Homo sapiens: one gene and its partners. The protein of the gene in region 1 interacts with the protein of each later gene in a pairwise test. Each region holds a gene or a part of one and is shown in the gene's direction. Other genes may lie near its edges. The genes, in order: CUL3, GMCL1, UBXN7, KLHL5, ZMAT4, KLHL7 and KLHL2.

Region 1 (4,428 bases):
CCTATAATCCCAGCATTTGGGGAGGCCAAGACAGGAGGCTCTCTTGAGGCCAGGAGTTTGAAATTAGCCTTGTTAACTTAGTGAGACTCCATCTCTACAAAAAAAAAGAAAAAAGAAAAAAATTAGTGGCACACAGTGGTATACACCTGTTGTCCCAGAAGCTGAGGCAGAGGATCACTTGAGCTCAGGAGTTCAAGGCTGCAGTGAGCTGTGATCGCGTGACTGCACTCTATGCTGGGCGACAGAGCAAGACCTTGTCTCAAAAAAACTGAACAACTGTCCAGGTATGGTGGCTCATGCCTGTAATCTCAGCACTTTGGGAGGCCGAGGTGGGCAGACCACCTGAGGTTGGGAGTTTGAGACCAGCCTGACCAACTTGGTGAAACCCCATCTCTACTAAAAATACAAAATTAGCTGGGCATGGTGGTGGATGCCTGTAATCCCAGCTACTCAGGAGGCTGAGGCAGGAGAATCACTTGAACCCAGGAGGCGGAGGTTGCAGTGAGCCAAGATGACGCCACTGCACTCCAGCTGGGGCAACAATAGCGAAACTCCGTCTCAAAAAAAAAAAAAAAACTGAACAACTACACAGCTGTAGTTGGTAAACAGTCATTTTTATGACTGAGAGTTAGGCATGCTGAAGATAAAGAACTAGAAAACTTTCTAGTAGAGAGTGTTGTTTGCTCTCATCTGGTTCTGAAGGTTATATGTCAAACAATAATTGGATGCCAAGAATATTAAGGCATAGATAGAGTAGATCTCATCTCAGAAAATGGTTGGTGTAGCTCAATTTCAAGCCTTTGTGATATATGATATCTCTGGAACCTGAGGAGCTCACGACAGCATAGAAAATCAACTGAAGCATAAAACATGCTCACATCTGAATTGGTCTCTTTTGACTTCATTTTGGAATTTGTGACACCAAAGGGAAAAGCAACATGTCGTCACAGGTTTTACAGGCAGTAGCTGCAATAAGGGAACAAAATCACTAAGGTTGCACAGAATAGAAAAGTCTATTAATTTATGCATTCATTTGGTCTTCCGTTTTTCAAATATATTAATACAACCTGCCACAGAATCCTTTTGCCCTTATTTAAAAGTAAGGGCAGCCAGGCACAGTGGCTCACGCTTGTAATCCCAGCACTTTGGGAGGCAAAGGCGGCGGATCACCTGAGGTTGGGAGTTCAAGACCAGCCTGACCAATATGGAGGAAACCCATCTCTACTAAAAATACAAAATTAGCCGGGTGTGGTGGTGCATGTCTAATCCCAGCTACTCGGGAGGCTGAGGCAGGAGAATTGCTTGAACCCGGGAAGCAGAGGTTGCGGTGAGCCGAGATGGCGCCATTGCGCTCCAGCCTGGGCAACGAGTGAAACTCCGTCTCAAAAGAAAAAAAAAATAGAAATAAAAAAATAAAGTAAGGGCAATGGCCTTTTTACTGTTTGGATTATAACAAATTATTGCCTTTTGTTTGCACAGTTGAGGCTTTCAGTGAGCTTAAATGAAAAATTCCGTCTTTTGGCTGTGTAAGTTTTTGCCTGCATATGCAAAGGCTTCATAAAATAATCTCTGTGACTAAAATTTCATTTCATCTGTTCTCAATCATCCCTTAACCCAGCGCTATATTACCTTATGCCTCCAATTCAGTGGTAGCCCTCTACGGAATAGAATTCCACTCCAACCCCTCATTCATGATGCACTAAATGAGAATGTAAGAATGATGCTACTGTGTGAAGTAGGAGACACTTTCTCAAACCGTATCCCTTTTTTTGATGTATGTCAACCAGATATCTATGTTTTCAAACAATAGTGTTTTTAAGCTGTAAATGAACCGTAGTACTGCTTTTGTAGAACTAAAATTGTATAATTGTTACATCATCTTAATTTTGCAGCTAACAGAACAAGAAGTAGAAACAATATTGGATAAAGCAATGGTCCTTTTTAGGTTTATGCAAGAAAAAGATGTATTTGAACGTTATTATAAACAACACTTGGCAAGGAGACTTCTCACAAATAAAAGTGTTTCTGATGACTCTGAAAAAAACATGATATCTAAGTTAAAGGTAAGGTGTGTTTTAGATGAAATAGAGTGCACCTAACTGAGGTTTATTATGATTGTGTACTGACAACGTGATTGGAAATTAATTTGGTAGATTATTAAGTGTTTATTTCTAGAAATAAAGGTAGATTGTTTTGGAGAAGAACACAGACTACACTAACATTTGTTCAAGTTCAGGGACATTCAGAGTTTGCTGGAATTTCTGTTGGTGTGTCAGGATACATTCATGGAGGCCTGGAAGGGAGGATTAGTAAAAGGGAAACAATAAAGAGGCTATGCTGTGTAGTTCTTTTTCACAAAGTGTGGTCCATAGAATACTTGCACGTGAATCACCTGAGATGCTAGTTAAAAACAGTTCTGGGCCCTGCCTTTCATGGGGGTATATTGGAATCTCTGAAAGAATCTGGGAATTTGCATTTTAAAATCCTAAAGTTTGATAACCACAGGCACAGAGCAACTGTTGGAAAAATTTACAGGAAGATTATCAGGGATAGCAATAACATGAAATAATTTATTTCTTTCTGTACTTTCTCATAGAAACATCTACCATTTATTTGTGTATATTTGTGTTTTTCCTCCACAGACTGAATGTGGATGTCAGTTCACGTCAAAACTGGAAGGAATGTTTAGGGATATGAGCATCTCAAACACAACGATGGATGAATTCAGGCAACATCTACAGGCAACTGGTGTAAGATTCTGCGTTAATTTCTACTTAGATATTCATGTAAAGTCTTTTGTAATGGGTATATTTTCATCCACTTAGCAGATGACAGTTGTTTCTTTAAATGTCATTAGTGACAACATGTGTTTTATCTGTGAGTACTTAATTTTCCTTCACATTGCCTCTTATTCTGTGTTTATGTTAAAACTTTTTATTCTTTTAAAATTTAGTTGTTTCTTCCCACTTGAAGGAATACACTGACAATTTAATAAAGAGAATTATTCTGTTGTTAATAAAGATAATACAAATCTATTATAAATTGTGGAAAGAGTACTGGGCTTAACACAAGTTTACTGAGTTTCAGTACTCTTCTTTTCACTTTACCCCAAGATTGTGTCATCTTGGGATAGTCACCTGACCTTCCTATACCTCACTACTATTATTCTCCTCTGTAAGTTTAGCTTAAATGGGACTTACATCCTAAGGGTGCGTAGCAGGTGAAGTGAGACTATAAAAACACAGAAATTAATGTATTATAAATGTGTTTGGTATAACTCCCCAAAGGTGGTGAGCTGGAACTTCTTTAGCTTTGGAGTCTGATGGGAGTTTTATGAGCATTTAATGAAATTCAGAATTTAGTTTCATTTTTTACTCTGATTTTCAACTTAACCTTAAGTTTAGAGAATTGTACAGTTTTTAAATTTTTAAAATCACCGTGTACCACTCTATGGTTAAAATGTGTCACAACCATTTAACAGATTTGTGAGTCTTTTCCTTTGGTATCTAAATATGAGATCATCACTTCTACTGGCCTTATAGTCTCGCAAACCAGATACGTGAAAATACGTAATTCTGTAGAATAACCATTCATTTCTATGAAAACATTCTGACTCTAATGTAAATAGTTGTATGATTTGCTTTATAAATATCAGTGTTTACAGTGGAGAAGAGCTGAGAGGAGGAAAGATGCAAGTCCATGACAGAAATTTCGGGTGGACAGGAAATAGTGGTGTAATTATCCTGGATTTTTATTTTTAGATTGTTTAGGAATTTATAGTTAAATCTAATATATTGATATATTTTCTTGTATTTTTTTGTTTGCTCTAGTAAGTTTTTAAATTTTTTTCTTCCACTAATCTTACACATTGAAAGCTATAGGGAAGATTGGGCTAGATCCCATGCATATTGATATGGGATGGATGGACTGTCCACTTTGTGACCCTCCCTTCCCCTAACCAACTTGCGAATGTATAAACAGTTCTCCACCTCCCCCAGTACACCATCTAAGAGTCTCCTCTATGATCCTCTCTTCTGTGCATCATCCAAGTTTATTTTCAGTTTCCTTAAAGTTAAGTAATCATTTAGTGGATACTTGTGAAGAAATCGGAGTGTAGAATGCTTCTTGATATTCATAAACTGATTCCTCCCCTTAAAAATTTACATTACTAAATCATTGAGGTAAGATAAAAATGGAATGATGGTTTATAACACATCCTGAATATCAATAATAGAAATAATATTTAATCTTTAAGAGTTTTTGTTGTGCCTTATTGTTGTTTACTTAAAAATTTAATTTGTTTAAAGGAAGAAAATAATTGTGACAGTTGATACTAGCATAGAAGTAGTTATTCATTGTACAGATATTTGTAGAGCACCTGCTCTGTAGCACTGGATCTATAGTGTTATAGCACTGGATCTGTATGCA
Region 2 (4,428 bases), about 150 Mb from region 1:
TATTGTATCTTATTCTTTTTCATCTCTATCCCAGCGTAGTAAATGTGAAAACAAATATTTGTTTTAATTTTCATTTCTTTTTGTTTGTTTGTTTTGAGACAGAGTCTTGCTCTGTCGCCCAGGCTGGAGTGCACTAATTTTTAGTAGAGACAGGATTTCACCATGTTAGCCAGGCTGGTCTTGAACTTCTGGCCTCAAGTAATCCACCTGCCTTGGCCTCCCAAAGTGCTGGGATTACAGGTGTGAGCCACCGCGCCTGGCCCTTAATTTTCAATTTTCATTTCTTTGGTTACTGTATTGTTGGGTTTTTTTATGCTTATTGAACGTATCATCTCATGTAAACTGACAGCTTATATTGTTCCTGTTTAATTTTTTATTAAAATTTCATTTTTTTCTTGCTAATTTTTAACAGCTTTTATATATTAAAAATACATTTGTGATACTCTATAGTTTTTACTTTTTTTTTTTTTTCCGAGACAGGTTGTCACTCTGTCACTCAGGCTGGAGTGCAATGGTACAATCTTGGCTCACTGCAGCTTCCACCTCCTGGGCCCAACCTTTCCACGCACCTCAGCCTCACAAGTAGCTGAGACTACAGGCTCGCACCACCATGCCCAGCTAACTTTTTTGTATTTTTTTATAGAGACGAGGTTTTGCCACGTTGCCTGGGCTTGTCTGGAATTCCTAGGCTCAAGTGATCCACCTGCCTCCGCCTCCCAAAGTGCTGGGATTACAGGCATGAGCCACCAGGCCCAAACAGTTTTTACATTTTTGTCATTTGTCTTTTCAACCTTCAAAACAATCTATCTTTTTCTTTTATGATTTCTTTTTTTTGGTGTTATCCTTAGGCCTCCATCTTACTAGGATTATATAAATAGTCATCTATATATTCTTCTGTTCTTTTTATGGCTTAATTTTTTACTTTGGAGTATTTGACGATATATCTGAAATGTACTGGATGTATCAATGTATTTGAAATGCCTTATTGTACATGAAATACTTATAAACTTGCTTTCATTTCTGGACTTTTTGTTTTATTGATTTCTTTGTTATGAAGACAAGGCATTGTTTTAATTAGGCTAACTTTAAAATGCATTTTAATATTTAGTTACGCAAAACCACCTTCATTTTTCTTTTTTTCAAAAATCTCTCAGTTCTTTGTGCATGATTATTCTCCTGTATGGGATGTAGGATCATTTTATCAAGTTTCCTTGCAAAAATTCCTATGGGGATTTTAATTTATATGATTAAATATGTAGAGTAGTTTGTGGACCATTGATGTCTTCCTTTCTGGAATATGGTATTTTCTACATTTACGTAGGTCTTCCCTTATGTCTGTCTCTAAAATTTGTAGTTTTTCCCATATTGTTCCTGTGTATTTCCTGGAAGTATAACACTTAGTATTTTACATTTCTTTTTTTTTTTTTGAAACGGAGTCTTGTTCTGTCGCCAGGCTGGAATGCAGTGGCGTGATCTCAGCTCACTGCAACCTCCACCTCCCGGGTTCAAGCGATTCCCCTGCCTCAGCCTCCCAAGTAGCTGGGATTATAGGCACATGCCACCACGCCCAGCTTTTTTGTATTTTAGTAGAGACAGGGTTTCACTCTGTTGGCCAAGATGGTCTCGATCTCCTGACCTCGTGATCCGCCCACCTCAGGCTCCCAAAGTGCTGGGGTTACAGGTGTAAGCCACCGCACCCAGCCAGTATTTTACATTTCAGTTGCTAATATGAAATGAATCATTTGTTCTAATAGTTTTTGATAATGTAAGAAAGTTAGTGATTTTTGTATATTTATTTTGTAACTGTCCATCTTATAAGACCATGCTAAATGGATTTTCACTATAGAAGGTTCCGTCAGACAGCAATGTGTAGGAAGGATTAAAGATATGATAATGGCAATAAAACAATTTATGATTATATAGCTATAATTCAGATTAAAAGTGATAAGAACCTTAAAGAATGTAGCAATGAAGAGGAAAATATTGATGGGTTCTGGAAATAAAGTGGTGCAATTGAGAATTTGATTCTTAATTGTGTGTGTGCATGAGGAAATGTCAGATGGTTTTCTGATTTGAGCAATTTAATTTACAGTAGTGGTTTTACCTGAGATTTGAATTATAGGAAGGAAAATGAACATGACATAGTGTTGGTGATGGTGAAGAGATGATGAATTCTGTTTAGGGCATGTTTAATTTGAGAGCATCAAGGTGAAAATTTGATAGGCTGGTGAATAATGGATTTGGAGTTTACAAGTAATGCCTGAACTAGAAATAATAATTGGATGAGATAATGTACAGGAAATGTGTAGAGAATATGACAGGATAGAACCCTAGGGACCACTGGTATTTAAGAGATGGACAAAAAAGGTAACCTGGTGAGACATTGAAAAGCTGGGATGGAGAATCAAAGCCAAATTGCAGGCTTGGCGTGGTAGCTCATGCCTGTAATCCCAGCACTTTGGGAGACCAAGGCCAGAGGATTGCTTGAGACCAGGAGTTCAAGACCAGCCCTGGCAACTTAGCAAAACCCTATCTATACAAAAAATTGAAAAATTAGCCGGGCGTGGTGGCATGTGCCTGTGGTACCACCTACTTGGAAGCTGAGGCAGGAAGATCACTTGAGCCTGGGAGGCTGAGGCTGCAATGAGCCATGATCATGCCACCGCACTCCAGCCTGGGTGACAGAGTCAGACCCTGTCTCAAAACAAAAACAGACAGACAAAAAACACTACCAACAACAACAAATACCCAGAAATTTATTTAATTGTCTGGAAGTAGAAATGGGGACCTAGGAAGTTGCTGCTGCTCTGCTGCTGCTATATGTGGGCTCCACAGATTCCATCCACAATGGAATAAGGAAAATAGAACTTTGCTATAAAGGTACTTCAATGCAAATGTAGATGCAGATTGAACCTTTAGGTGAAACAACAGATTTGATGAAGCTCGGATCGACCTATCCTGTTTGGGAATGGAGAGTGGGGATTAATACAATTTAATATTCAAAAATTGGTGTATCCATTCAGCCAAGTGATATCCACGTGCCTTCCTTCTTTCTCCAGAGTTGGCCCTTTGACCTACCCTTCCCTGCCTCAATCTTAACTGTATTCAAATACTAGAAGGCTAATCTTCCTCAGAGCCTTTTAGTTATGGAACAGAATCTTGATTTTTATCATCAGATATACATATCATCAAAACATTTGTCCTCAACAAATTTGGTAAATGTGCCTTCACCCAGATTATTGATATAAATTTTGACTAGTTCAGGATGTCTCAAGCATCTGAAGACCAACCATGCTTTGGCATAATTCCTCTCTGGTGACACTTGTTAGCACAGTCTAGGTGATGGCCTCCCCTGATTTTGTTCACTGATGTCTTTTTATAATACCACTTTCCCTCGTACAGAGAGAGAGATTGTGTGTTTGTGTGTGTGTGTGTGTGTGTGTGTGTGAGACATTTGTACTCTCTACCTTCTTTATTCAAATTTATCTTCTTGTTCCCTCAACACAGAAGCTGTGTCTAGTGAGTCTGCTTCAGTCACACAGATATTCTAGTTTTAGTTCCTCTTCATGCAGGAATACATGTCTCAGTAAAAAATTAAAACTTTGGATTTAAACAGTGTTTAATAGTATCTTATCCAAAATAAATAAAGTGTAACTAATGCATACTATTGCAGAGAGCATATCCCAGGCATTTAAAACGTAGGAATTCTCATTTTAGTGTTTCTTCTTTTACTCTGAGGATTGATTCTATTTACCAAATGCTTCTAGTAAAGGATATATGAGGTTCCAAACAGAGATCTGTAGCATCAGGGATGTTATATTTGTGTAGTGTCAGCTCCTGTCTCTGGGAGTTCTGAGCATTCTTGTGTGTGTTGATGTAACTGAACCTGAAATTGCTTTTCCATGATAATGTATTTTATGTTTCAGGAGACAAATTACATGTTTGTCATAGGGACAGTGGGAAATGTCAATAGTAGGAACCCTGCTTTTTGATGATGATAATGACTCCCGACCTTCATCTGGGTGATTTGCTGTACCCAACGGCCATCAGTAATTGAAGCCAAGTAGCCAGGCACAGTGGCACCTGCCTGTAGTCCCAGCTACTCAGGAGGCTGAGGCGGGAGGATGAGGCAGGAAGATCTCTTGAGCCCAGGAGTTCAAGGCCAGCTTGGGCAATATAGAAAGACCCTATCTCATTTTTAAAAATAATTAATTAATTTTGTAAAAGGAAATAAATTTTTTTAAAAATTGAAGCCCAGTGAGAAGTTTATGTATTTCTAGACATTGTATCTGTTGACAAAATATGTAAGTATTTGATAGAAATTTTTGCAATAATGAAAATAACTACCATTATTGAGTACTTAATAGATAGCTGGCTTTGCAAAACCCCCTGTGTATTATCTCTTGTAATCCTCCTTTAAGTCAGGTA
Region 3 (4,428 bases), on another chromosome or scaffold:
CTGTTTGGTGCAAGAGGCCTAGCTTTGTGTCTGTCTCAGCTTTCCACATGCCTTTCTCACTAAGCTTAATCATTTTTAGTAGAGGCGGGGTTTCACCATGTTGGCCAGGATGGTCTCGATCTTTTGACCTCTTGATCCACCCACCTGGGCCTCCCAAAGTGCTGGGATTACAGGCATGAGCCACCCGGCCTGGCCTTCATTTTGATATTTAAAAAAATGCGTATGCTTACTTGAATCCAGAAGTGCAAGACCAGCCTGGGGAACTTAGACCCTGTCTCTTAAAAAAAGAAAGAAAAAAAAATATGTGTATATATATATTTATGTATGTATGTATGTATGTATGTATGTATGTATGTATGTATGTATGTGCCAGGTGCGGTGTCTCACGCCTGTAATCCCAGCACTTTGGGAGGCCGAGGTCAGGAGTTTGAGACCAGCCTGGCCAATGTGGTGAAACCCCATCTCTATTAAAAATACAAAAAAATAAATAAATAAAAATTAGCTGGGCGTGGTGGCGGGCGCTTGTAATCCCAGCTACTTGGGAGGCTGAGGCAGGAGAATCGCTTGAACCTGGGAAGGCTGAGGTTGCAGTGAGCCGAGTTCGTGCCACTGCACTCCAGCCTGGGCAACAAGAGTGAGACTCCATCTCAAAAACAAAACAAAACAAAACAACAAAAACGTGTGTGTGTGTATATACACACACATATATATATCTCCATTCCAATTTGGCTGTGTAAGACACAGTCCTTGCTCTTAAAGTAGAAGGGATACAGTCAGCAGAACATAATAATGAATGGCAAGCTATTATATTTCTTATGCCGTTTGACTTGTTTTTTGGTTTAACTTGTTCTTTTTCCTGTGTTTTATGACTCCATCTCACAGGAGAGCCTTATAGATGCAAGTGAAGACAGCCAGCTAGAAGCTGCCATCAGAGCCTCCTTACAAGAAACACATTTTGATTCAACACAGACAAAACAGGATAGCCGCTCAGATGAAGAATCTGAATCTGAACTTTTTTCTGGCAGTGAGGAGTTCATATCCGTTTGTGGCTCTGATGAAGAAGAAGAGGTAGAGAATCTTGCCAAGTCCAGAAAGTCTCCCCACAAAGATTTGGGGCATAGAAAAGAGGAGAATAGAAGGCCGCTGACTGAGCCACCAGTCAGAACTGATCCTGGAACAGCCACAAACCACCAAGGATTGCCAGCTGTGGATTCAGAGATACTGGAGATGCCACCTGAAAAAGCAGATGGAGTAGTGGAGGGGATAGATGTAAATGGTAAGTTACATTTAGACATACTTTACTTCAAACTTAGATATTGGGGCCGGGCGTGGTGGATCACTGAGGTTAGGAGTTCCAAGACCAGCCTCGCCAACATGGCAAAACCCTGTCTCTACTAAAAATACAAAACTTAGCCAGGTGTGGTGGCACGTGCCTATAGTCCCAGCTACTTGGGAGGCTGAGGCAGGAGAGTGGCTTGAACCAGGGAGGCGGAGGTTGCAGTGAGCTGAGATCACGCCACTGCACTCCAGCAAAACACTTGAGTAATTGCTGAATGGCTGTATTTATTTACATATTTATTTAAACTAATATTCTGTCTTAAACTCCTGTATCCCGTTTTTTTTTTTTTTTTAAACCCTTCCTTTAGGACCAAAAGCACAGCTGATGTTGCGGTATCCAGATGGAAAAAGGGAACAGATCACTCTTCCAGAGCAAGCTAAACTGCTAGTAAGTACAGGCTTGCTTTGGTTCAGTTCCGACCACTGCAATAAGACGAGTCCCAAATTGTTTGGTTTCCTGGTGCATATAAAAGTTATGTTTACATTATTCCATAGTCTATTAAGTGTGCAGTAGCTTTATGTCTAAAAAAAAGCACATAACTTAATTAAAAAAAGCTTTTGCTAAAAAGTGCTAATGATCCCCTGAATCTTCAGTGAGTCATCTTTTTGTTGGTGGAGGGTCTTGATATTGATGGCTACTGACTGATTGGGGTGATGGGTACTGTGGCAGTTTCTGAAAATGTGACAGCAGTGAAGTTGCTGCATCAGTTGCTTCCTTCGACAAAAAATTTCTCTGTAGCATGTGCTGCCGTTTGATAGTATTTTACCCACAGTAGAACTTCTTTCAAAACTGGAGTCAGTCTTCTCAGAATTTGCCGCAATTTTATCCACCAAGTTTATGCAATATTCTAAATCCTTTGTTGTCATTTCAACAGTGTTAAAAGCATCTTCAGCAGAAGTAGATTCCATCTCCAGAAATCACTTTCTTTGCTCATCCATAAGAAGCAACCCCCCTCCCTTTAATGTTTGATCATGAGATTGCAGCAATTCAGTCATATCGCCATCCTCCACTTCTAATTCTAGTTCTCTTGCAGTTTTTACCCCACTTGCAGTGACTTCCTCCAGTGAATTCTTAAACCCCTCAAAGTCATCCATGAGGGTTGGAATCAACCTCTTCCAAAGCCCTGTTCATGTTGATATTTTGACTTCCTATGAGTTGTGAATGTTCTTAATGGTATTTAGACTGCTGAATCCTTTCCAGAAGATTTTCAGTTTACTTTGCCCAGATTCATCAAAGGAATCTGTATTTATGCCCAGGCTGGTGTGCAGTGGTCATAGCTCACTGTAACCTTGACTCCCCGCCCCGGCTCAAGTGATCCTCCTGCCTCACCCTCCTGAGTAGATCACCACACCCAATTAATTTTCTTTTTTTTAGAGATGGTTTCTTGCTGTGTTGCCAGGTCTTGTCTCAAACTCTTGGACTCAAGTAATCCTCTCACCGCAGCCTCCCAAAGTGTTGAGATTTGGCTCCGTGCCTGGCCAAAATGTGTTTCTTAAATAAGATTTAAAAGTTGAAATGACTCCTTGATCCATGGGCTGCAGAATGGATGTTGGGTTAGCAGACTGGAAACAGCATTCATTTTTATTTGCATTTTCGTCAGAGCTCTTACGTGACTAGGTGCGTTGTCAATGAGCAGTAATATGTTGAATCTTTTTTCTGAGCAGTAGGTCTGAACAGTGGGCTTAAAATATTTAGTAAGTTATGCTGTAAATTGATGTGCTGTCTTTCCAGGTTTTGTTGTTGCAGTTACAGAACACAGACAGAGTAGATTTAACATAATTTTTAAGGGACCTGGGATTTTGGAATGTTAAATGAGCATTGGCTTCAACTGGAAGTCACCAGCTGCATTACCCCCTAACAAGAAAGTCAGCCTTTTTGAACCTTTGAGTGCAGCCACTGACTTCTCTCTAGCTGTGAAAGTCCTTGATGGCATCTTCTTCCAATAGAAGGCTGTTTTGTCAAACTTAAATCTGTTATTTAGTGTTGTTACCTTCGTGAACTGTCTTCACTACATCTTCTAGATAAGTTTCTGCACCTTCTGCATCAGCACTTGCTGCTTCACCTTGCACTTTGATGTTATGGAGATGGCTTCTTTCCTTCAACCTCATGAACCAACCTCTGCTAGCTTCCAGCTTTTCTTTCGTAGCTTCCTTAACTCCCTTAGCCTTCATAGGATTGAAAAGAGTTAGAACCTTGTTTTGGATTAGGCTTTGGCTTAAGGGAATGTGTGACTGGTTTGATTTTTCTGTACAGACCACTAAAACTTTCTCCTTTTCAGCAGCACAGCAGTAAGGCTGTTTTGCTTTCTTTCCTTTTTTTTTTTTTGAGACAGAGTCTTGCTCTGTCACCCAGGCTAGAGTACAATGGTGCGATCTCAGCTCACTGCAACCTCCGCCTCCCGGGTTCAAGCAGTTCTCCTTGCCTCAGCCTCCCGAGTAGCTGGGATTACAGGCGCCCACCACCACGCCCAGCTAACTTTTGTATTTTTAGTGGAGATGGGGTTTCACCATGTTGGCCAGGCTGGTCTCGAACTCCTGACCTCAGGTGATCCACCCACCTCAGCCTCTGAAAGTGCAGGTGTGAGCCACTGCTCCCGGCCTGTTTTGCTTTGTTATCATTTGTGTGTTCACTGGAGTAGCACTTTTAATTTCCTTCCAGAACTTTTCCTTGCATTCACAGCTTGGCTGTTTGGTGCCAGAGGCCTAGCTTTGTGTCTGTCTCAGCTTTCCACGTGCCTTTCTCACTAAGCTTCATCATTTTTAGCAATTGATTGATTTTGAGGATGGACACTTCCTTTCACTTGGGTACTTAGAGGCCTACACTGGTAGGTTATTAATTGGCCTACTTTCAATACTGTCATGTCTCCGGGAATAAGGAGGCCTGAATAGAGGGAGAGAGATGGGAAAACTCCCATTAGGTGGAGCAGTCAGAACATACTTCTTTATTAAGTTTGCGGTCTTGTGTGGGCGTGGTTTGTGGTGCCCAAAAGCAGAATAGTAACATCAAAGGTAACTGCTCACAGTTCATTATAATAGATAAAATAATGAACTGCAAGCATTACCAAAAGGTGACACAGAGACAGGCAGTGA
Region 4 (3,679 bases), on another chromosome or scaffold:
CTAAATGAGTTTACTGGCAAACTATGCCAAACATATAAAGAAGAATTAACACTAATCCTTCTCGAACTCTCCCAAAAAATGGAAGAGAAAGGAGCACCCTGTGACATTCTATAAGGCGGACATTACCTTAACACCAAAGCCAGACAAAGACCTCACAGGGAAGCTACAGACCAATATCCCTTATGAATATAGATGCAAAAAAACTTCAAAATACTAGCAGGCCAAATCCAGCAGCTTATTAAAATGATCACACAGCATGACCAAGTGAGATTTATCAAAGAAATGCAGGGATGGTTCTACATACAAATGTCAATCGATGTAATAATATACCATATTAATAGAATGAAGGGGAAAAAACAGCATGATCACCTCAATTGATAAGAAAAAGCATTTGACAAAAATCCAACACCCTTTCATGGTAAAAACACTCTGCAAACTAGGAAGAAAAGGGAACTTTCTTAACCTGATAAAGACATCCATAAAAACCCACAGCTAACAACATAATAGCAAAACATTGAAAATTTTTCCCCTAATATCATGAAAATTCCTGATTTCCCCACTGCTATTCAACATTATACTAGAAGGTCTAGCCAGAGCAATTAGGCAAGAAAAAGAAATAAAATGAATCCCAAATAGGAAGAAGTAAAACTACATTTGCAGAAAACATGGTCCTATATATTAAAAATCCTAAAGAATCCACAAAATGATTCCGGCTGATTTTAAAAATTCAGCAATGTTGCAGGTTGCAAGATCAACACACAAAAGTCTAAGAAAAACCTGAGGGGAAATTAAAACAATTTCATTTACAATAACATGAAAAAGAATAAAATACTTAGAAATAAATTTGACCAAGAAAGTGCAAGACTTGGACACTGAAAAGTACAAAACGTTGCTGAAAGAAATTAAAGAAGACCTAAATAAATGGAAGACATCCTGTGCTGGCAGGTTGGAAGACTTAACATTGTTAAGATGGCATTACTCCCAAAATTAGTCTATAGATTTAATACAATCCCCATTAAAATTCCAGTGACCCTTTTACAGAAACTGAAAAGCTGACCCTAGAATTTATATGGGATTGCAAGTTACTGAAGGTACTCAAGTCTGTTCAAAACAATCTTGAACAAGAATAAAGTTGAAGGACTCACATTTTCCAATTTCAAAATTTACTGCAAAGCTACTTCAATCAAAACAGTGTTGTGCTGGTATAAAAATATATAAAGCAATAGAGTAGAATGGAAAGTCCAGAAACAAATTACGCCAATACACTATGGTCAATTGATTTTTGACAAGGGTTCCAGGACCATTCAATGAAGAAAGAACAGTGTCTTCAACTAATAGTGCTAAGACAAGTGAATATTCACATGCAAAAGAATGAATTTGTACCTGTACTTCATACCATATATAAAAATTAATTCAAAATAGATCAAAGACCTAAATGTAAGAGCTAAAACCATAAAACTTTGAGAAGAAAATACAGGAATAAATCTTCATGACCTTGGATTTGGCAATGGTTTCTTAGATATGGCACCAAAAGCACAAGCAACAACAGCAAAAAAAAAAAAAAAAAAAAAAAATCAAAATTAAAAGCTTCTACATATCAAGGGACACTATGAAGAAAGTGAAAAGACAACCCACAGAATGGGAGAAAATATTTGTAAATCTTACATATCTGGTAAGGAACTAATACCTAGAATATATAAGGAACTCCGATGCTCGACAACAAAAAGACAAACCAATTTTAAAATGGGCAAAGGACTTAAATAGACATTTCTCTAATGAAGATATACAAATGGCCGACAAGCACATGGAAAGCACTCAACCTCATCAGTCATTATGCAAATCAGCGCCACAAGAAGATACCACTTCACACCTATTAGAATGACGAAATAGACCTAGGATCTAAACCTACAGGAAAAAAAATGAATAATAGAGAAAATAAATGTTAGAGAGGATGTGGAGAAATTGAAAACCTTCATTCGTTGTTGGTGGGAATGTTAAATGGTGTAGCCACTGTGGAAAACAGTTTGGCAGTTCCTCAATAAGTTAAAAAAAAGAATTACCATATGACCCAGCAAGTCCACTCCTGGGCATATACTGAAAAGAACTGAAAACAGGTGTTCAAGCAAAAACTTTCACGCAAATATTCATTGCAGCACTAGTCACAGTAGCCAAAAAAGAGGAAACAACCCAAATGGCCATCAGCTGATGAATGAATAAACAAATTGTGGTATCTCCACACGGCACAATAGAATATTCAGCCATAAAGAGAAATGAGGGACTGATACATGCTAAAGCATGGATGAGCCTTGAGCGCATTTTTGCCAAGTGAAAGAAGGCAGACACAAAAGGCAACGTATTGCATGAGTGCATTTATATGAAATATCCAAAATAGGCAAATCCATGGAGACAGAAAGCAGATAAATGGTTGTAAGAAGCTGAGAGAAAGGAGTGGGGAGAGATTGCTAAAAAGGAGTTTCCTTCTAGGGTGATGAAAATGTTCTGGAACTACTTATTGGGGATGATTGCACAACATGGTGAAGGTACTCAATGTCACTAATGGTAAATTTCACATACACTTTACCATAATTTTTAAAAAGCTTTATTAGCTACATTATGTTATGATACTTAAATGTCATAACAATAGCATTCTGTACGCTTCACTAGGATAAAAACTTCGGATTTATATGCATCTGGAAGAGAAATTTTTCACTGTAATTTGCAAATAAATGAATTTCTAAAAATCTAACAGAAAGGCTCTTAAATCTTAATTTCAACCTAAGAAGGGAGTGAGAAACAACGAGAACCATGAGGGGAGAGTTAACGGGGAACTTCCCCACCGTCCGGTACATGGCAGGCATTCCACAAATGTTTTCTGAAAGTTGAAATAGACATCTTTTCATGAACTCTGTAATATTTGAAATTATTGATAACTCTTACACAAAAACAAATATTCAATAAAATGATATTTAATTTCACTGTGACTAGATAATACTCATGTAATATTTTTTATTTTTTAACTGGAGTAAAAAAAATCAAATGCCATGAAAAATTACAGGCTACTTATGGCATTTTCATCATTCTGAGTCTTAAAGAACTTATATGAACGCACCACCTCTTCCATCACAGCCTCTGTCCTCATTCCTGAGATGTAGGAGAGTACCGTGTTTTTTTGTATCTTCTCCTGGGGCTGAACAACTTGCAAGCCTCTTGAAGAAATGCCGTATTGACAGATGTGGGTATTGGCATCATCGCTAGACTTCACTGCCACCCTCATTTCCCCCTAGTCCTGGGTAATTATTTGGGCTAACGAGGTATAATCTAGAAAGCAAACCCAGGGAAGCTCGGGAAGCAAATCTAGTGCCCTGGATCTTTGCCCAGGTTCAAGCTGGTTCCATTTGACCATATTTCTTTGTGGATAATAAACAATTATATTTAATTCAGGTATTTTCACATACTTTTGAGGACAGCAAAGATCACCTGGTGGCCATCAAGCAGACCATCTGGAGGCAAAACTCCTTATCTGAGGAATTCAGAAGTCATTAGACTGCCCTATTATCTAAAGCCGGCATCTTGTACTAGGCTTCTTTACCAAAAATGTATTTAATGTAAGTAACTAGAATTTTTATACATCTCCGGAATGAATGTGTGTCAGAAGTTACTGGGCAACCCTTGCTGACGT
Region 5 (4,428 bases), on another chromosome or scaffold:
TCACAGCAACACCCCTGAGCCCACTTAAGCCCCCACGGATGGACACTGCTCCGGTGGTCGCATCTCCCTATCAAAGAAGAGATTCAGACAGATACTGTGGGCTCTGTGCAGCCTGGTTTAATAACCCTCTGATGGCCCAGCAACATTATGATGGCAAGAAACACAAAAAGAATGCGGCAAGAGTTGCTTTGTTAGAACAACTGGGGACAACCCTGGATATGGGGGAACTGAGAGGTAAGGGCAGCTCTTCTCACTTCTGCCACAAAACTGGGCTTTCAGAGAAAAGATGCGGCTTTCACAAATCGGAATGATTCTTCTTCTTGCTTTAATTATTAAGGAAAAAGTGAGGCTCACCCAAAAGAAATGGACAAGAAAGGAAATGAGCAGAAGGCTTGCTTTAGTTTAATTTTTATAATCTCCTTTGTTTCAAAGTGTTTATTTTCATATTTTTATTGACTGCTTTTCAGACCAAAGGCACATTCATGAACCAGATTGTTTTCCTTCTGCTTTATCTTTAACTGCCTTCTTTACCAAATGCTTTTGTAGAGTAGCAGTGTTTAAAAAAGAAAAAAAAGATGCTGAATGGGAGGCTGAGGTGGGCAGATTGCCTGAGGTCAGGAGTTCAACACCGGCCTGGCCAATATGGTGAAACCCCGTCTGTATTAAAATACAAAAATTAACCAGGTGTGGCAGTGCGCACCTATAATCCCAGCTACTTGGGAGGCTGAGGCAGGAGAATCGCTTGAACCCAGGAGGCAGAAATTGCAGTGAGCCGAGATTTTGCCATTGCACTCCAGCCTGGGCAACAGAGTGAGACTCTGTCTCAAAAATTTAAAAAAAAAAAAAAAAAAAAAAAAGATGATAAAAAGGCCAAATAGTATTATCTTACCTTAAACTTTTGTGCTTTTATAAATTTAGCCAAAACAAAGCAACAAATTGACTCAATTTAATGACTTGAAGCAAGCCCAAGCCCCTTCAATAAAATCTCCGGGAAATCACGGCAAGACAGTGCTGTGTGGCACTATGTAGTCAACACCTGTCTCCTCCGCACCATGCCCCTGCCCCAGACAGGGTTTTCTTGACAGCTAGAAACCATGTATCATTTGAAGTTCCTGTGAGGTTTCACAGAAGCTGCTGAATTTGGAAAACATAGCGTGAGGATTACTTCTGTGGATTCCTTAGGAAGCCATCAACCAATTTGTGGGACTAAATAGAATATTTTATCACCAGCAACCATTTAAGCATTTTTGATCACCTACATACTTTTGATCAGCTTGATGTTGGCAGCATAGAAGTACAGCAAAATTGCATATTATATTTTCTGAGAAAATGCATTTTTCTCAGAAAAATAAAAATAATTCTGCAAGGGGTGCTATTGATACTATACTTCAGATTTGGTGTAAGTTTGATGAGCTTTTGTGGGCAGGTCATTCATAATGGCTGCAAGCTATAGATAACAACATTTGCAAATCAATTTGGAGACGGCAACCTCAGTTTAAACAGGGTTCTGCATACAGAGCCTACAATTCTAATTACCGTAATCTGGCTGTGAACCTGTAAGGGGGATAATTATAACAGAAAATGACTTGGAACATTTCTAGACAAAATAAGTAATATAAAAGGTCATGCTACAATGAGTTGAGAGGAGGGACAGGTCACTTCTTAATATGTTGGTTGCAGAAGATCTCACCAAGGGAATATACTTGATTTGGAACTAGAAAAGTGGGTGGCATTTTAGAAGGTGAGAAGGCATTCCATGTGAGCAGAATCACATACGCATGGGCAAAGGTCAGGAAACAAGCTAGAGACAGCTAAGAAGTCATCATGGAAGAATCTTATACTGCAGCATAGATTTAAAGTTGGAGATCCATGGCTAAGTATATAGAGCTTGATTCGAGATTGATTTTTTCCAAAAGACCTGATTAAAAACAACAAAAAAAGAGCAAACATTAATAACACTTTATTTATGTGTATGTGTTCTAGCTACAGAAAAGCAACTTGGTGCTTCCTATTTCAGTATGTTGGATAAGCTCATTGCAGAAGCTTTTGAGTCAATGGTACTACTGCTTTTTGATGGAGGATTTCATATGTTTTCAGTCTATGTCTTGTTAAAGAAAATAGGCAGGATCTCTCCATAGCTGAAGGCCTAACTGCAATGCCTGTGTTACTGGCAGATAACAAGTTGTCTCAGTGACTCCTTCCCAGCTGGGCAGTGAAGGAGAAAAATAGGACTTTATGTTTGGTGCCAGTTATTATGACTTGAAGAAAAATTATTCCTACAGCACATTCTTCCTGTCTATTTTGAATTATCAGTGCTGTATCTTTTATGTACAACTACATCTTAATGACTTTGGTGTCTGAATTCTGTAACATTTGAGCAGCTTGTCTTTCATACAGAAGACAAAAAGGCTGCTTTGACTCGATAACTCAATGTGACTGTGACTCAGTAGCCCATGGAATGCGATTAGCATTGAGCACAATGTCCTTGAAACCAAACTTTCCACACGCTCCAGGTGATATCCTGATAGATATTTATTCAAGCATTAAATATTGCAAAAGCTTAAGAATAAAGCAACTATGGTAACCCAGCACTTTGAAACACACACACACAGGCCACACACACACCCCTCTATTCCTGGAATGCTTCTAATGTATGATCAATCAATTAATAAAGGCAAAAATGCTAATCCATAAATATAGGCATATCCATGACTTTAATAAAATGGTATCAGGCAGCTGAAGCACGATATAGCAATATAATAGGATGGTAGGCTTTTTCTCTTTCTCTCATAGCACTTCTCACATTTTTAAACACTGTCTTGTTTACTTACTTTTTTTTGTATTTTCTTTCTCTCTACTTACTTTATAGATTATTAGCATCTTAAAAGCAGGCATTTATGTCTGGTTTGCTCATTTATATGTTCAAAACACCTAGAGTAGTGGCAGACACATAATAGTTACTCAATAGTTTCTGAATGAATGAATGAATGAACAGAGAATGCCCTAAAACAAAATCACCTGAAATCTTACATTCTTAACATGGCAATCATTTTCATTTCTAGAAGGATTCTGATTTAATATTTTTTATAAGAAACTATTTCTAATTTTGTTTTAATTTTTTAAAATGATGCATATTATATGTATAGTGAAATGCAGAGATATTACATGTTACAGTTCTATGAGTTTTGACAGTGCAAACACCTGTGTAACCCACAGCCCTATTAAGATACGTAACTTTTCCATCATGGGAAAATTCCCATGTCAACTCCAACCCTCCATTCCAGAGAACCACTTTTCTCATTTTTTCATCATAGATTAGTTTTGCTTGTTCTAAAACTCCATATAAGTGGAATCATAAAATATGTATTTCTTGTGTGTCTGGCTTATTGTGGATCACACATTGTTTATGAAATTTATCCATTTATAGCATATAAAGCAAAGTAGTACCTTTTTTATTACTGAGTAGTATTCTATACACAAAAATACCACAGTTTGTCTATCCACTCTATTCATTGATGAACTTTGGATTATTTTGGTGCTATTTTAGATAAAGCTTTCATGAACATTACGGCACAAGACTTTTTTTTGGTCAACATATGTTTTACTTCTCTTGGTAAATAGGCATAGGATTGCTGGGTCATAAGTTGCATGTATTTTTAACTATAGAAGAAACTGCCAAAATCTAAAATAGTTGCGTTACTTTGCACTTCAAAAAGCCAACATATAAAAATTCCATAGCCTCACCAACATCTGCTCATGTCAGTCTTTTAAATTTTAGCCATTTTAGTGCATATAGGAGGGTATTTCATGATGCCTTTAATTCATATTTCCATATTGACTAATGATGTCAAGTACTTTTTTTTTTTTTTTTGAGATGGAGTCTTGCTCTGTTGCCAGGCTGGAGTGCAGTGGCATGATCTCAGCTCACTGCAACCTCTGCCTCCCAGGTTCAAGAGATTCTCCTGCCTCAGCCTCCCAAGTAGCTGAGACTACAGGTGCAGTGCCACCACGCCCAGCTAATTTTCGTATTTTTAGTAGAGACGGGGTTTCACCATGTTGGTCAGGATGGTCTTGATCTCTTGACCTCATGATCTGCCCACCTTGGCCTCCCAAAGTGCTGGGATTACAGGTGTGAGCCACCACACCCTGCCGTCAAGTACTTTTTAAATGTGCTTATTGGTCATTTGTGTATCTTCCTTTGTGAAGTGTCTGTTTATGTCATTTATCTGTTTTTAAAAATTTATTTTTTGCCTTTTATTTGAGATGAGGTAGAAGGCTTTCACGTATTATGGATTCACATTCTTTGTTGAATATATGCATTATGAATATTTTCTCCTAGTTTGTGACTTGGCTATTAATTTTCTTAAGCCCTTCAATGAGCAGGCATTTTTAAATTTTGGGAGGCTAACTTAACTTTTTTATTCTTTT
Region 6 (4,428 bases), on another chromosome or scaffold:
CTCTTTATTTCATTCTGTGGTATACAGTTTCTCTAAGAGAACAAGTGAAAATATTTTCCCCCAGTTTTTCAAGTGTTTATTGAGTGGAATTGAAGTTTCACGAACATGTTATGTTTATCACATTGTTTTGTGTGCCCACCACTGAGTAACCTACGGGGATATTAATTAGAGAATAACATCCTAAGCTATTAAGGCTCTATTTTCCTGGTCACCTAAAAAGCAAAATGTTCATCTTTGTCAGGAGTCAAAGTATTCTACATTAGGGGCTCTTCCTTTCCTAAGAGACCATTCCTGATGTTCTGTGATACTTTAATCCAATGAATGCCTGAAACACTGGATACGATCATAGGTTATCAGTCAGATTTTCTCGAAGGAAACTCAATAATCACACATAGTGCTTTCCTTGGTGAGATTGGGAATGGTATGAATTCCTATCTGACCCTGATTATTTTCAGAAAATAGCAGGAACGCTGTAGCTTCCTATCTCAAAAAAAGAGAGGGTCCAAGATACTATAACTTTAGGGGCATCCCCCCATGCACATACATGGAAGGGCGGCACAAGCATTCTTCGATGCTATCAAACATAGTGAAGAAACAGATGCTGTGAACAGCCCTTACTGTCAAGTACTGATAGGTGTGTATTTCTAATCATTGGGGTGAAAAGTGAGTATCCAGAGTACTTAGAAGAGATTACTCAAGTATTTCCTTATAAACATCAACAGTTTTAAAGTCCAGCTGACTACATTGGCTCAACTCAATATAGAAAATTAATAAAGAAGTCCACAAAATACCTTCTGGCTTTAGACTATCAGTAGGATAATGGCAATTTGAGCTTCATATTATCCATTGATTACTTATATCACACTATATATCTGGCAGGGAAGGGATGGAGACCTTTACATTTGAAAAAGCTTTTTTAAAAAATAAAACAACTTATTTTAGAATCTTCTTGTATTGTCTTCAATAACAGAAGGAATAGAAGACAGGGTGGTGATGGTATATCCAAATATATTTAAGTTTATTTTAGAGCCAGAAAGGACCCAAAGCAGTCATGTGCCTGCCTTTTGCCCTCCGCCCCATCTAATCAACATTCTGCAGAAACCACACAAGATTAAATTGGTAATAGTCTCAAGCCAAACATTTGTATGTGTAGTCTAATAAATTAACATATTCTTATATGTTTTTTGACTGTATCTTTGCATTGTCCTTTTCAGTTATATTTTTTTCCTTACTGAAAGCTTCCCATCCTTTTCTGCTACAGGATTATAGCTGGACAGACATCCGCTGCCCCTTTGAAAAACGAAGAGATGCAGCATGCGTGTTTTGGGACAATGTAGTATACATTTTGGGAGGCTCTCAGCTTTTCCCAATAAAGCGAATGGACTGCTATAATGTAGTGAAGGATAGCTGGTATTCGAAACTGGGTCCTCCGACACCTCGAGACAGCCTTGCTGCATGTGCTGCAGAAGGCAAAATTTATACATCTGGAGGTTCAGAAGTAGGTAAGGACTTCTTAAGTATTTTGGTTTGGGGCATATGCTTTAAAGCCAAGTATCTTGGCTTTCATATTTAAATAAACAGCTGGTATTATTTGTCCAGATACTTTCTTGGTAATTTAAATATGTGTTTGTCACATTTTAGAGCTCATCTCCCTGAAGGTTTATGTCGTTGCTTTACAAACCATTAAATTACAGAACTTTAGCTTCCTAGATTAATGGCCCATTTTTTTTATCATAATGAAGCATTAGTTGACATTATCTGAATTATAGTTCTAAATTATTTGGGCTGCATAATATTATTTGTTTTAAAGATTTCAGAGTTCAACTTATAGACTCTTTAAGAACTCGTTACTATATTCAGGCTTTTAAAATTTGTATTATATTTGCTTTCTTTTTATTAGAAAAAAGAATGCTCTTTTTCATTTGTTTTATTCTTTAAGTTTTTAATGACTGTAGTGGTATTTATGCTTATTGAGCAGAATGGGATGTGGGTGTGGATATAAAAACCTTATTGGATAGTGTGTTAGTGTCCAGTAGTGCTCTTTTTCTAAATGAATAATTTTTCTAAATGAATAGGTGCAGGCTAGATACATAATAGCTTTTGTATGCTTTCATTTTCAAGTAATTTCTTTAGCTTAAATAATGGGCTAATAAAGAAAACTAGGGAGACCGTAAATGGTTATACTTTTGGTCTGCATACTTATGTTTTTACCCTCAACTATATGTCAAATGAATACAAGAAAAATCACTATTTCCTAAATGTAACCATTTCCTCTCTTTAAAAGCATTCTTCACAGACTGTTATAATGTAGAATATTTCAAATACAATAAATCCTAAAGATGATAGACGGTAACTGTTCTGTGGTACTGCAGATAACTTCATTTCTTCAGCCTTTGCTAAGTGTGTTTTTAGCTTAAGTAGTAGTTTTTTTTTAATCTACTATATACTATATATTTTCCTATAGTGTCCACCCACTGAACCTACCAAATCAGGAATGTTTAAAAAGTTAAAAATAAGTTATTTTTGGTCATGACCATTGCTTCTTCTAGTTGTTATTTTCTGATCTTTACTTTTCACAGACCTTAGTTGCAACGCAGAATTATAAAGGTGTTGTCGTTTTTAAATCATTTGATATTAGCCCAGAATGGTGGGAGATGAGAAATAGTTTGGTAACTTCTAAAATTTTTTGTCCTTGGGAAGGAAAAAAAAAAGCACTTAAACTTTAATAGTATCATTTCTAAAATTTTTTATTGAACTCCTACAGTGTGTAGAAGTTTCAAAACATGATGAATGTATGTTTTGCCTTTAAATTGTGTAATCAAAATACATCAGAAATATACATCAATATTTTGAGAATATACTCAAGCAGGGACCAGTGTGATTTCAGGATATACCACACTAACTGAGAATAGTTAGGAAATATAATTTTGTTAATGGTGCTGTAGCTATTCCAGAATATTAAATAAGAATATGATCAGATAGTAGTTTTCATATTTTAAGGTATGGGTCTACCATCTGTAAGGAACTATTATGCTTTTCCACTTTATATAAACATTTGAAGTATGGATAATTCCCGTCATGCATAATGGGGCTTGAAGACATATATAAGGCTTCTTATTTAATTTTTCTTTTGAAATCAAATTTATTTTTCTAAAGTTTAATTACCAATAAATAAGTATTTCCAACAGATCCTTTTAAGGATGTTTTCCAGGGTCTATACAAACAGGATTATTAGCGTTTTCTTAAACTATTCCTACACTTTGTTGTTGTTGATTGAGTATGAAAATGGCCGTATGACCCTAAATTCTTCCTTCCTTAACTAATAAGATCTACAGTCAGTTCTTTCCAAACCCCCGCACACACTAAAGTTAAGCATGATGGGGCCTTTTTCTTTTACAGGAAACTCAGCTCTGTATTTATTTGAGTGCTATGATACGAGAACTGAAAGCTGGCACACAAAGCCCAGCATGCTGACCCAGCGCTGCAGCCATGGGATGGTGGAAGCCAATGGCCTAATCTATGTTTGTGGTGGAAGTTTAGGAAACAATGTTTCTGGGAGAGTGCTTAATTCCTGTGAAGTTTATGATCCTGCCACAGAAACGTATGTATCTATTTAAAATTTATTTTACAGTTAACTGTATTCTATAAGCTCTGTAGGAGATGTCAAAAGACCAGAGGAACCCAACAGAAGAATTTTGTCCTTGAGTGAAGAGTGTATATAAACTTTTGAGTGTGCTAGGGTCAGTGGCATATTTATGACCTGGACCTTTCCCTTACACCAGAAATGGCTTGAACTTACACCCCATGGGAACCTCTTTCTTTCTGGTTCTGCGTGCAATAAATGCCTATGAATGAGACACATCTGATTGATTCGTCAACTCATAAAATGTTTTTGTTTGAGCGGTCAGGAAATGTAGAGGAGGAGGGGGGAGTTTATGACCAGCAATAAATTTATCCTTAAGTAGAAATATTAGATATTGGCTCATGGCATTAATAAATCATGCCTCCCTAGTTCTTTTTAGGTGTAAACTTCCTAAGTACATTTAGATTCATGTTTATTAAATAAAATTATTCTTAAATCAACTGCTTTTAAAAAGGCAAAGTGTGTCAAAAAGGTAAAATGCTAAAGAAATAACTGGTTAGCCAGTTTTTCTGACCTTGTAGTTAATGATGGAACACATTCAATGTAGCCAAAGGAAATGTGCTAATCATTGAATAATGGAGAGGGCATGAGGGCACGGGTTGTGAGTAGTGACATTAAAGCTGATGAGGACATAAAACAGATGATACCCTAGTCGTACCTTTTATGGAAACATCCAAAGAGCTTTGATAAGAAAAGTCACTTGATCATATGGCTGGATTGCCCATCGTTCTTCCCTTACTAGAACAAGTTACTGGGTGAATACGTTCACTAAAATGCTATGCCAG
Region 7 (4,428 bases), on another chromosome or scaffold:
GTCCACTTACATGTGGATTTTTTTCAATAATTATGTTGGAAAAATTTTTTTGGAGATTGGTAACAGTTTGAAAAAACTCAGATGCACTGCATAACCTAGAAATATTGAAAAAATTAAGTTTAAGATTATGAACACATAAAATATACGTAGATACTAGTCTGTTTTATCATTTACTACAAAATATCTACAAATCTGTTACAAAAAGTTAAAATTTATCAAAACATATGCACACAAACTCTTATGGGAACAAACACCCACAAACCATAGATGGTGTCATTCACAGTCCAGAGAAATGTGAACAAACCACAAAGATACAATATTAAATCATAACTGCATGAAATTAACTGTAGTATGTTACTGTACTACTATAATAATTTTATAGCCGTCTCCTGTTGCTGTATTGGTGAGCTCAGCTGTTGTGAGTATCCACTTAAAAAGCTGTGGGGGGCTAATTACCTTTGAAAGAGCAGTTTGTCTCTTCAGCGATGCGTATCTCAGTAAAAAGTTCTCTCTCATGGTTCTGCCTTATTTTTCATCATGTTTACTGCAATATCATAAACCTTGAATAATACCATGGGACCCATACAAAGTGCCACCGGTGATGGTGCTAGGAAGTGCTTCAACGAAGCAGAGAAGAGTCATGACATTACAAGAAAAAGCTGAATTGCTTGAGATATACCATGGATTGAGGTCTGCTGCTGCACTTGCCCACCATTTCAAAATAAATGAATCCAGGGTAGGGATCATTGTAAAAAGGAAAAAGGAAATTCATGAAGCCGTCCCTGCAGCCATCCCAGCAGTTTTGAAAACTTCACACTTTTTGTGAAATCCCTTTTTATCTTGTGTTGAACATGCAGCTTTTATGTGGGTGCAGGATTTTTGTTTTTGAGACAGAATCTCACTCTTGTCGCCCAGGCTGGAGTGCAACAGCGTGATCTCAGATCACTGCAACCTCCGCCTCCCAGATTCAAACGATTCTCATGCCTCAGCTTCCTGAGTAGCTGGGATTACAGGGATGTGCCACCACACCTGGCTAATTTTTAAATTTTTATTATTTTTATTATTTTTGACTTTTTGGTTTTGGTTTTTGGTGGGTGCAGGATTGCTGTAAGAAAGGCATACCTGTCAACTCTAATATGATTTGAGAAAAAGGAAAGTCATTATGTGACAACCTGAAGCAAAAGGAAGGTGAAGGATCTAAAGCTGGAGAATTTCCTCAGCCTACTCAAGCAAAGGATGACTTGATAATTTTGGAAAGGGGTTTGGCTCAAAAAATGTCAAGATAACAGGAGAACACTTCTGTCAACCAAGGGGCCAGCAGATGAGCTCCCAGATGCCATGAAGAAAGTTGTTGAGGAGAATGGATATCTGCCTGAACAAGTTTTTAATGCAGACAAATGTGCCACCAGGGACATTTATTAGGAAGATAAGCAAGCACCAGAATTTAAGGCAGAAAGGGATAAGCTAACTCTACTATTTTGTGCAAATGCAGTTGGGTTTATGATTTGGACTGCTCTTATCTAAAAAGTTGCTAACCCCCAATCCTTGAAGGGAAAATATAAATACCAGCTGCCAGTCTTTTGACTGTATAACAAGAAGGCCTAGACAAGAAATCTTTTCCCGGACTGGTTCCATCTATGCTTCAGGTTCAGGAAGTACCATGCCAGTAAGGGACTGCTTTTTATTTTGATATTGGACAGTGCCCTTGGCCACCCAGAACCCCATGAGTTCAACACCAAAGGCATAGAAGTGGTCTACTTGCCCCTAAACACAATGTATCTAATTCAGCCTCTAGATCAGTGACCATAGGAACCTTAAAGTTTCATTATACATGGCACTCTATGGAAAAAATTGCCAGTGCTATGGAAGAGAATCTCAACAGAGAAAACATGAAAGTCTGGATGGATTACACCATTGAATATATCATTGTTATAGAAAAAGCTATGAAAGTCATCAAACCCAAAACAATAAATTCCTGCTGGAAAAAAACTGTGTTCAGATGTTGTGTATGACTTCACAGGAGTTATGACAGAGCCAGTCAAAGAAATCATGAAAGAGATCATGGATGTGGCTATAAAGGTTGATGGTGAAGGGTTTCAAGGTATGGATCTTGGAGAAATTCAAGAGCTAATAGATACCAAACCAGAGAAATTAACAGAACATGACTCGACGGAGATGAGTGCTTCTTAACCACTGCCAGACAATGAAGAAGATGTAGAAGCAATGTCAGAAAACAAATTGACATTAGACAGTCTGGCAAAAGGGTTTGGTTATTCAAGACTGTTTATGACTTACTTTATGAAATGGGCCCTTCTATGATATGTGCACTGTAACTGAAGAAAGTAGTGGAAAGACGATTGGTATTATGTGGAAACATTTTTAGAGAAATGAAAAAAACAAAAAAGTCAGACAGGAATTAACAGTGTATTTCCTTAAAGTTGCACCAAGTGTGTCTGCCTCTCCTGTTTCCCCTGCCTTCCCTTCCACCTCCTCCACCTCTTCTGCCTCTGCCACCCCTGAAACAACAAGACCAACCTCTCCTCTTTCTCCTCCTCCTCAGCCTGCTCAATGTGAAGAGACAAGGATGAAGACCTTGATGATGATCCACTTCCCCTTAATGAATAGTAAATATAGTTCCTCTTCCTTATGACTTTTTAAATAACATTTCCTTTTCTGTAGCTTACTTTAAGAATACAATATATAACACATAACATGTTATGACATACATAACATATATTACATGTAAAATATGTGTTAATTGACTGTATCAGTAAGGCGTTTGGTCAACTGTAAGCTATTAGTAATTAAATTATGCGGGAGTAAAAAATTATACATGGGTTTTTGACTGCGTGGAGGGTCAGCACCCCTGACCCCCATGTCGGTTCAAGGGTCAACTGTATATTTAAACTATATAATTTTATTACTTTTGACAGAGTATATACCCATGAAACCATCACCACAATCAAGATAATGAACATATCCATCATGCTCAAAAGTTTCTGTGTTCCCTTTTGAGTATATTTTCCAAATTGTAACTACAAAGAGGAAAAGACTAGTTCTGGATTAAATAGTCTTATATTTAACTAGCCCATAACTAAACAGAGTTTTCACTGTCATTTAGATTCAAATGATAATACTACTAAAGTTTAAGAAAGAGATTCTGAAACATGATTTGTACAGTTCCTCCTGCCTTCGTATTATAATGAAGAATTGAGTGTTTTCTCAGAGATACAGAGTGCTGCCTGTGACTTCTTTTTTCTCTCTTCATTTCTTTGCTCAGGGGTCACAGTTATTGATAAACCATTATGAGCCTGAAGGACATTTTCAGCATATTTATACATGAGAAACAGCCTTCAACAAGTATTTGTGAAGTGACTGAGAATCTAGCACTTCTCCACTTGTAGCTGCACTTTAAGTCTCAGCAGAAGATACGATCGTCTGCCTTTATAGGCCTCAGATACTGAAGATTATTTTTGGTAGAAGCACCGTGTAGGCTTTTTCTGCAATGAGCAGCAGCTGACTGAATTTTCATAAGAAACTTGGACTGCAGGACTTAATCTGTAGTCTTTAGACAACAGTTGCTTTCATAAAGACTAGTTCTTATCAACCTTGAATGACTACAGATTATTTTGTGAAGGAGGATGAAGTAATGTGTGTTCTTGTAAAATTAAATTTTATCTTTATTTCTTCTAAAAATCTGTATACCAGGAACTGAAAATCTTTGAACAGATATTAAAATCTACGTAAGTATACAAACTAGTTGAGGGATACACTGTTTGCTTTTATAAAATAACTTTGATTACATGAATATAATAAATTATGTGCATATAAATGTGTGTCTATATGCTTTCCTTTAAATATGTTTGAAAAGATGTTTGAAACTTGATTATACTATTTATAATTGGCACAGTACTTTGAATTATGCCAGTACTACATTGTAAAACAGAGTTGTATTTTTTGATATTTAACAATGCTTAACACTTTAAATGCCACTTCTGAGGAATGGACCTGGTGTAACACACTTGAATATGTGTGATGCCAAACTTTTTAAAATACAATATAAATTATGCTTATTTATTATTTTCTTTAGTTTAATCTTGGTCATGTTTTGGTGTGTATTTTTAATTTTTTTCTTAAATTAACACTTTGGCATGAACATTACTGCAGGTTTTTGATGAATATAATGAATGTATGGAATTCAATTGAATTTGCATGGTCTTCGGAATTTTTTCTGTGTGTATAAATTTAGCTGCTATTAACAGAAGAGAGAACTTTCTGTGAGTAGCCATGTGTGTTGATCAGATACAGTTTTTCTGAGATCTTCAATTAATCTCACTTTAAAAATGACCAAAACATGTCTTTCTTGAATTAACTTTGAATAAAAGTTTGTATATTATTTGTTTCACAGTGTTCTTGATTTTTATCTAT

The links.
Region 2: the proteins of CUL3 (region 1) and GMCL1 interact in binary tests that used the Homo sapiens proteins (3 or more experiments, as listed by UniProt).
Region 3: the proteins of CUL3 (region 1) and UBXN7 interact in binary tests that used the Homo sapiens proteins (3 or more experiments, as listed by UniProt).
Region 4: the proteins of CUL3 (region 1) and KLHL5 interact in binary tests that used the Homo sapiens proteins (3 or more experiments, as listed by UniProt).
Region 5: the proteins of CUL3 (region 1) and ZMAT4 interact in binary tests that used the Homo sapiens proteins (3 or more experiments, as listed by UniProt).
Region 6: the proteins of CUL3 (region 1) and KLHL7 interact in binary tests that used the Homo sapiens proteins (3 or more experiments, as listed by UniProt).
Region 7: the proteins of CUL3 (region 1) and KLHL2 interact in binary tests that used the Homo sapiens proteins (3 or more experiments, as listed by UniProt).

Annotation. Positions count from the first base shown.
Region 1 is NC_000002.12:224,501,287-224,505,714, reverse strand, and holds part of CUL3 (cullin-3), read left to right. Parts: intron 1-1,892; coding exon 1,893-2,063; intron 2,064-2,642; coding exon 2,643-2,750; intron 2,751-4,428. UniProt on the Homo sapiens protein: Core component of multiple cullin-RING-based BCR (BTB-CUL3-RBX1) E3 ubiquitin-protein ligase complexes which mediate the ubiquitination and subsequent proteasomal degradation of target proteins.
Region 2 is NC_000002.12:69,874,287-69,878,714, forward strand, and holds part of GMCL1 (germ cell-less protein-like 1), read left to right. Parts: intron 1-4,428. UniProt on the Homo sapiens protein: Possible function in spermatogenesis. Enhances the degradation of MDM2 and increases the amount of p53 probably by modulating the nucleocytoplasmic transport.
Region 3 is NC_000003.12:196,359,142-196,363,569, reverse strand, and holds part of UBXN7 (UBX domain-containing protein 7), read left to right. Parts: intron 1-882; coding exon 883-1,276; intron 1,277-1,646; coding exon 1,647-1,726; intron 1,727-4,428. UniProt on the Homo sapiens protein: Ubiquitin-binding adapter that links a subset of NEDD8-associated cullin ring ligases (CRLs) to the segregase VCP/p97, to regulate turnover of their ubiquitination substrates.
Region 4 is NC_000004.12:39,123,253-39,126,931, forward strand, and holds the end of KLHL5 (kelch-like protein 5), read left to right. Parts: 3' UTR 1-2,981; downstream 2,982-3,679.
Region 5 is NC_000008.11:40,670,510-40,674,937, reverse strand, and holds part of ZMAT4 (zinc finger matrin-type protein 4), read left to right. Parts: intron 1-6; coding exon 7-234; intron 235-4,428.
Region 6 is NC_000007.14:23,164,437-23,168,864, forward strand, and holds part of KLHL7 (kelch-like protein 7), read left to right. Parts: intron 1-1,261; coding exon 1,262-1,502; intron 1,503-3,399; coding exon 3,400-3,601; intron 3,602-4,428. UniProt on the Homo sapiens protein: Substrate-specific adapter of a BCR (BTB-CUL3-RBX1) E3 ubiquitin ligase complex. The BCR(KLHL7) complex acts by mediating ubiquitination and subsequent degradation of substrate proteins. Probably mediates 'Lys-48'-linked ubiquitination.
Region 7 is NC_000004.12:165,318,752-165,323,179, forward strand, and holds the end of KLHL2 (kelch-like protein 2), read left to right. Parts: intron 1-2,560; coding exon of another isoform or gene 2,561-2,574; exon of another isoform or gene 2,575-2,600; intron 2,601-3,280; coding exon 3,281-3,309; 3' UTR 3,310-4,396; downstream 4,397-4,428. UniProt on the Homo sapiens protein: Substrate-specific adapter of a BCR (BTB-CUL3-RBX1) E3 ubiquitin ligase complex that mediates the ubiquitination of target proteins, such as NPTXR, WNK1, WNK3 and WNK4, leading most often to their proteasomal degradation.